Homo sapiens: one gene and its partner. The protein of the gene in region 1 interacts with the protein of each later gene in a pairwise test. Each region holds a gene or a part of one and is shown on either strand. Other genes may lie near its edges. The genes, in order: AGPAT5 and CYB561A3.

Region 1 (3,915 bases):
AGCAAAGAAGGAAGTGTTAACTAGTTTAACTGACAAATAAATGCTTCCCAGCTTGGTGTGCGATTGAGATTTTTGTTGCAAGTTTGTGAATCAATTTAACTGCCCCTGCCCTGGGGACTAAAGTCAGATACGTGCTTGTGGGAATCTTTGTCTTTCCCACACCACCCTGCATTTTAAAACCTCTTGTGTGGGACAGTCCCACCATGTAATAGCTGTTCTTCCTTACTCAGCTACTTTCCCTCCAGAGAGGCCAGTAGAAAATCTAGACTAGTTTTTTATAGTCTATTTTCATGTCACTTATTGAGAGCTACTGTTTTCTGTTAAATTGTCAGTAAATATTTTAATCAAGGAAAAGGGAGGTAATAGGAAGGAGAGAAGAACAAATCCTTAACCCTAGTAGGAACCTAATGAATGGGATTTGTTCTGGATAATTGCAGTAGTCCCCCAGCTAAAGAACCTTTTAAAAATATGTCAGATATACCCAAGAGGATTGAAATCGTATGTTCATACAAAAGCTTGTTCACCTGCAGCCTTCATATGCAATTCCTATGAATGTTCATAGCAGCATTATTCATAATAGCCAAAGTATGGATGCAACCCAAATGTCCATGAAGCAATTAATAGGTAAACAAAATGTGATCTGTTCACACAGTGGAATACTAACTATTCAGCCATAAAAAGGAATGAAGCACTGAGTCCTGCAGCCACACAGATGAACCTCAGATCCATGCTGAGCGAAAGAAGCCAGAAACAGGAGGCCATGTGCTGTGTGACTGTATTTCTAGGAAATCTTGAGTCACCATGGGCAAGATGCTATCACCTTTGTTCAGTGGCCAGAAGCGAGGGCACTAATATTTACCCTTGCCGGGGTCTACTAGATTGAAGCGTTTCCGCTAGGCCATAAACTTCCAACACGGTGACTTGTACATGTAGATATTTGATCAATATATAGCAAATGAATATTGATTTAAACAGAAAAAGGCAAGTGAGAGTGCTTTCTAAACTTAGAGCCCTAAATATATGAGGTTGTGGAATTAATAGATTCTGTTGTGTGTGTTTGAGGGAATTTAAAAATAATTTAGATGTTAAACAGTATATTGTGGAGGTGTTTTGTAACTAATTAATGACGGCACTGAATTGACTTCTAGGCCTTGCAGTATTAAAACATGTGCTAACACCACGAATAAAGGCAACTCACGTTGCTTTTGATTGCATGAAGAATTATTTAGATGCAATTTATGATGTTACGGTGGTTTATGAAGGGAAAGACGATGGAGGGCAGCGAAGAGAGTCACCGACCATGACGGGTAAGTGTGTTCACGCACCTGAAATGCCTGTACACGGTATATACAGTGCACATGTTTATGTAGAATTCAGTTTTACAAAGTAGGTTAAGTGTACTTTTTTCCTTCATTACATTTACCCGGTATATTTTTCAAGATGTTATTAAGATGTAACAGTGGAGATTTCATTAGTCCTGCAAAGTGTGGTATTTCTTGGCTGTCGTGTGAGTCCTGTGGACTCACCAATTATCATTAATCCAGCCTCTTTCTACTCAAAGTTCACACTTAAAAGGAAAGCTCTGTAAAAGGGAGGAAGACGTGAAGAAGGAGCACGCCCGGCAGTACTGAGTGCACGTTATTAGTCAGTGCTGCCCTTTTGCTGTATTTTTCGTAAAATATTTATTAAATTTGGGTGTCATTGTGACAAGAAGAAATGCAGTTAAGTGTGACCTTTTTTTTTCCCCAAACATGTTAGGTTTTAAGAACCTTTGAGCTATTGTCAGATATAACCAGAAAAAAATAGAATTTTAAGTGAGCAGGATAACTTAGTTAAACTAACCAAACATAGTGTTAGCTGTTAGAGAAATGTAAACATGGAAATAGGCAAACAGGGAAGTGTGTGGAGTTTCTGTTTCCTTTTCAAAATATCTGTTTGAGCTGGGGTTGAGAGAGAACACTAGGCTTCATGGGGTTTTTTTGTTTTTCGTTTTTTGTTTTGAGACAAGAGTTTCGCTCTGTCGCCCAGGCTGGAGTGCAGTGGCGCAATCTTGGCTCACTGCAACCTCCGCCTCCCACGTTCACACGATTCTCCTGCCTCAGCCTCCTGAGTAGCTGGAACTACATGCGTGTGCCACCATGCATGACTAATATTTGTATTTTTAGTAGATATGCGATTTCACCTTGTTGGCCAGGCTGGTCTCAAACTCCTTACCTCAGGTGATCCACGCACCTCGGCCTCCCAAATGAGCTTTGTGTTTTTACCTCATCAGCTGTTTGGGGTTGAGCCACTATGTATGTCAGTGTGCTTGTATCAGTAGGATCTACTGAGGGCAGATGTTCAAAATATGAGCCTCCAGCACGTTTTACATGGAAACCCTCACCTGAAGCATTCGTCTGAAGTTGATGTGCCTTGGAAATTTTATAGAGTAATATTTTTAACTACAACAAAACATTTATAAAAGTAGACATTATTAAAGCATTCAGAAGTGAGCAAGGATAGAAATTATTCTGCCCAACCTTACACGTAGGCCTTCTAGACGTAGTACTGTGCACCGTTACATTATCTAACACTGTCTGTGTGTCATCTTTGGATGTTAGGGATTTTTCCAAAGTTCAGTGAGATTATAGTTGTCAAATGATTAGTCTGTTAAATAATGATAAGATGAGGGTCACTCAGGTTTTAAAAGAAAAGCTCTTTGACTGAAAGAGAGAGCAGCTGTCTACTGCAGAAAGTTAGGGAGGGAGGCTGGAGGAGTGAGGCCCAGGGGCTAGCTAGTATAAAAATTGGTTATGGTCGAAGGAAAAAAAAATGTAACATATTTATATCTGAAAGATGATTGTTCTCATAATTGTATATAACACAGAGTAATTGTAAAGTAGAAAACTAAGGTGTTTTTCATTTTAGATGTAAATGTTTAGAATATGTAATGCATCAGTTTAAAAATTAAAACTGTACGAAATGCACAGTGAAACGTCTTCCTTGCTTTCCACCCTGCTACCTGGCCTTCCCTTCTCCTTCCTAGCGATAACCAGTTTTCTTAATTTGTTGTGCGTTGTATGTGCAAATTTAAGTATATCTTCTTATTCTACCATCCCTCCCTTCTTACAGAAAAGTGGCATATTAATATTTTTCTCTTTTAAACTATCGAAGGAGTTACTTACCTATTTTTGCATTTGAAAACAGACAGTTCATCAAGATTGTCGTTGGTTTATTAAACATAGTTTAAGATTAAACAAGTGTTTATAACCAATGAAAAACAGATAGACTCCCCATAATAACCTTGTTTAAATGCTGCTACTTTTATCATGTCCCCTCCTGTCTAAGAACCCCTTGGTTCAGCAGAGCTCATGGGTAAGGCCAGCCTCTGTTGCCTGCCATCGGAGGAATGCGTTCCAGCCGTGATCTCTGCCTTGCCTTCGCTTCCTCCTGTGCTGTGCCGTGAAGCCTCGGCCGTGGTGAAGCTGGCTGACTGAGTCCTCCTGCACCCCATGCATATTCAGTAGTTGAAGGCTTTGTGTGGCCAATCCTGCTTTCCACAGGAAACCACCCTCTCTTTTGTTGCCCTCATCCAAGGCTACTGTTCTCCCACAGTGACAGGCGGCACCTTTCCCAGCATAGCACTGTGCCTTCTCCTGCCCCTGCTCTTGCAGTACTGCTGTGGCACTGATGGCGTGTGTTACAGTGCTGGCACTTAGCACAGGGCTCTGCCTTTCTCTCTTCCCAGCCGCATCATAAGTGCCTTGAGGAAGCCAAAACCTTCTGTGAGTTGCATTGCCTGGGTTCCAACCTCCCACTGCCCTGCTTATCCTCTGCTACATGTGAGCTGACTGTGGCTTTGGGGTGGTCACTGCCTATGTGTATTCATTACAAATTGTCTCCTTTTGAAAGATTGACCTTTCTGACTTACCCAGA
Region 2 (3,915 bases), on another chromosome or scaffold:
GGAATCTTCTCAATGCAGAGCTGTCTCTAACCAAAGGAATCTAGTAGTATTACTGAGAAGAATGACTGCCTGGTCATGTAGTAGCGGTGGTAACAAAAATGGCAGCAAATCCTTATACATTGCTTACAATGTGCCAGGGAGTGTTCTACAAGCACTAACATTATTTAAACCTCACAAGGTAGATGACATAATACATTATTACCTTCCCCATTTTACAGATGAGAAATTTGAGGCCAAGAGAGGTAAAATAATTTGTCCAAGGTCACGTCGTTAGTAAGTGGCAGAGCTAGTATTCAGATGCAGGCTGCACGGGTCCACAGTCTGTGCTCTTAACTACTGGACTAAGCTGTCTCTTACATAATTGATAGACTAGTATTTAACTAGGCAGGAAAAATGCCAGCAAAGAAGTGTGAAGTGCCCTAGGCAGAAAAAGCAGAGAGGAAACAGGGGTCTCCTGGAAAGCTTTATCTTTAGGGTTATGGTTGCAACACAGTGGCAGTTGTTTCTTTTCATCTATTCCAAGACCCACAAGTTGCTCTGGGGGTGTCCTATGACCCGCTGCTGTGCCAAATCTATAAAGAAATTTCAAAATGCTCTGGAGTGTTAGCGATTAAATTAGCATCGGTAAAATGTTTTGCAATTTATAAGCTCTTTTCATATTTCTAACCTTACGTAATCCTACAACCATCTTGAGAAGTAGCCATTACAATGTATATTATCCCCATTTTACACAGAGGCTCCGGAAGGTTAAGGCACCTCCTCCACCTCAGCTGGTGAAGTCCCACCTTATTGGACATATGTTCGCGGTTTCCTCATTCATTAAATTTTAGAGAGAGAGAGAGTGTCTCGCTCTGTCGCCAGGCTGGAGTGCAGTGGCATGATCTTGGCTCACTGCAACCTCCGCCTCTCGGGTTCAAGCGATTCTCCTGCCTCAGCCTCCCAAGTAGCTGGGACTACAGGTGCGTGCCACCACGCCTGGCTAATTTTTTGTATTTTTAGTAGAGACGGGGTTTCACCATGTTAGCCAGGATGGTCTCGATCTCCTGACCTCGTGATCCTCCCGCCTCGGCCTCCCAAAGTGCTGGGATTACAGGCGTGAGCCACTGCGCCCGGCCGCATTAAATAACACTGATAGCTACTACCTAGGTACTCACACCACGATAAACTTGTCAACCAAGATCGTTTCCTTTAATCCTCCCTACAAGTCTGCAAGGTGGGAATTATTCCTATTCTACAGGAAAGGACACAGAAGTCAGAGCTCAAGGCATTCCTCCAGGTCTCAAGTCAGCAGAACCCGGCTTCATAACTGTGACGCCAAACCCGTGCTCTTAACCACTACTCATAGGCCACCATCCAGGGCTGTTTTGAGGATCCGTTATGCAGAAACGCCCATGCCTGTCTCTACGTACGACGATCCCCTCCAGTTTAGGGCAGTGGAGACTCACAAGCTCATGAAGCTCTTTAATTCGTCCACCGCTACCTGCCGCCTTCCCTTTGTACCTAGGGCAGTATTCCTCACGCTTCCCAATCCACTTAAAAACGAGGCTTCCTTGGCAAACAACAACAAAGCATAAAACCCAAGCCCAAAACAACAGCACCAAAAATTCTGACTTCTGGTCACTTAACCCACTCCTCGTCAATCACTCTCACCTCCAAACTCCAACGTCGGTTGTCATGCGGACATCGTCCCGGCTTCCGGAAGCCGGCTTTAAATTCCGGAAGTAAATGGAGGAGGCGGGCCCCGTCTGCGCCGTGCGGCCTGCTAGTCCCCGGCTTTCTCTTCCCGCTCTATGGCCAGTCTGGCCGCCATGTTGGAGCTTTCGCTGTTCGGGGCCCGGCCTGCTCCGGGCCCTCCCAGCGTCGCCGCTAGCTGACTTAGGGCTCCCGCCCACACTGCGCACGGCCTTGCTGAGGGCCGGCTCGTAGTGGGAGGCTTCGCGTTCACCTGAACATTTCCGCCTCCTCTGGATGGGGGATGAGAGGCGGGGCTGATGCATCGCAGCAGTCCTGGACCCTGACTTCGGACTTGGAGAAGAAACGCCGAGGAGGAACGGGAGTTAGGGGGTTAGCAGCTTGGCGCGCTGGGAGCCGGCCACCCCTGGTCTCCGGACTTCACTTCCCAGGAGGCCTCGCGCGCGACTGGAAGTGCTGCGAGCCTATAAGAAGGCGAGGCGGCACCCGCCGCTCTGCTCTGGGGCGGCATTGCCAGCCGGCTGTAGGCATTCAGGGCAGTGTCTTCTGCATCTCCTAGGAACCTCGGGAGCGGCAGCTCCGGCGCCTGGTAGCGAGAGGCGGGTTCCGGAGATCCCGGCCTCACTTCGTCCCACTGTGGTTAGGGGTGAGAAGGATCCCGGGGCTGGGAGTTCAGGGACCTGGGTTCGAATGCTGGTTCCGCTGCTATCTCGCTTCGCACTGTCGCGATCCCCTTGCTCGGCCTCAATTTTCTCTTTTAGAAAGTGGGCACCTTTCTCCGCGCTCTTCCTTCCAACGCGGTGGTTATAAAGGCACGAAAGCTCTTCAGAGGACGCAGAAAGCACCTGGAGCTCCTCACCCCAATTTTCACCCATTGTTAGCTGGCACGAGCACCCAGCAGAGGAGTCAGGGATCACCCCTCGGGTGCCTGGAACGGTTCTTTGGACACCTGAGCCGGACCTAGGCACAGCCTGAAGTCGGGGTCTATAATTATTCCGGTGCTAAGGGGTAACTTGTTCACCTACCTCCTTGGCAGGAATATTGAGCCCTTCACTCCTCATGTTCCGACTTTAACAGAAGCTACCTTTGAGAATAAGGAATCCTCAGAGCTGAGAGGGAGTGGACCCGAATTCCTGTACCAGCTCGGCCACTTACCTTGGCTAAGTCATTTTCTTGTTTTGGGCCCCAGTGTCACAGTGTTTTTGATTTGTAAGATGAGGGTTTAGGGCTTGTATCCTAAATCTGGTCCTCAAGATTCTTGAAGTCCCCCAGTCCATCGGGGAGGGAGAGCAACAAACTGATTTTCTACCCCTTCATTTATTTGTAGTTCTAAATTATAAAAGTAACACTGCAAGAGTTTGGAGTAGAGCCTTTTTCTTTTTCTTTCTTTTTTTTTTTTCTGAGACAGAGTCTCACTCTGTCGCCCAGGCTGGAATGCAGTGGCACGATCTCGGCTCACTGCAACCTCCGCCTCCCGGGTTCAAGCGATTCCCCTGCCTCAGCCTCCCAAGTAGCTGGGATTACAGGCGCCCGCTACCGCGCCCGGCTAATTTTTGTATTTTTAGTAGAGACGGGGTTTCTCCATGTTGGTCAGGCTGGTCTCGAACTCCTGACCTCATGTGATCCGCCCGCCTCGGCTTCCCAAAGTGCTGGGATTACAGGCGTGAGCTACCGCGCCCAGCCTGCGTAGAGCCTTTTTCTAAGACTAAGGGCTGGATGGGAACTAGCATTTCTTACCCCTGGATGTGACCTGTTTTAGCTCAGCCGGGAGAATCCTTTTTCGCAAGAAGTTAATAATATCTTGTGACGTGAAAATTATGTGAAACTCAGACTTCAGTGTCCATAAATAAATATTACTGGAACACAGCCGTGGTGCTCATTTGTTAAGATGTTTATGTGGCTGCTCTTGCATGGGCAGAGTTGATGACATAGTTGTGACAGACCATGTGCTCTACAAAGCCTAGAATATTTACTACCTGGACCTTTACAGAAGAGCTTGCTGACTGCTCCCTTAGAATGGGGCTCTGCAAAGTGAGCACACCCTGGGATCACAGCCCAGCCTGCCCTTAGAACAAATGAGAGGATATTTTCAAGCATTTGCATTGCAGTTTTCACGGTTTTTTTGTTTTGTTTTGTTTTTGAGACAGAGTCTAGCTCTGTCGCCCAGGCTAGAGTGCAGTGGTGCGATCTCGGCTCACTTCAGCCTTCTCCTGGGCTCAAGCC

The links.
Region 2: the proteins of AGPAT5 (region 1) and CYB561A3 interact in binary tests that used the Homo sapiens proteins (3 or more experiments, as listed by UniProt).

The regions. Positions count from the first base shown.
Region 1 is NC_000008.11:6,746,522-6,750,436, forward strand, and holds part of AGPAT5 (1-acyl-sn-glycerol-3-phosphate acyltransferase epsilon), read left to right. Parts: intron 1-1,148; coding exon 1,149-1,307; intron 1,308-3,915. UniProt on the Homo sapiens protein: Converts 1-acyl-sn-glycerol-3-phosphate (lysophosphatidic acid or LPA) into 1,2-diacyl-sn-glycerol-3-phosphate (phosphatidic acid or PA) by incorporating an acyl moiety at the sn-2 position of the glycerol backbone.
Region 2 is NC_000011.10:61,360,156-61,364,070, reverse strand, and holds the start of CYB561A3 (lysosomal membrane ascorbate-dependent ferrireductase CYB561A3), read left to right. Parts: upstream 1-2,188; 5' UTR 2,189-2,338; intron 2,339-2,728; exon of another isoform or gene 2,729-3,915. UniProt on the Homo sapiens protein: Transmembrane reductase that uses ascorbate as an electron donor in the cytoplasm and transfers electrons across membranes to reduce iron cations Fe(3+) into Fe(2+) in the lumen of the late endosome and lysosome.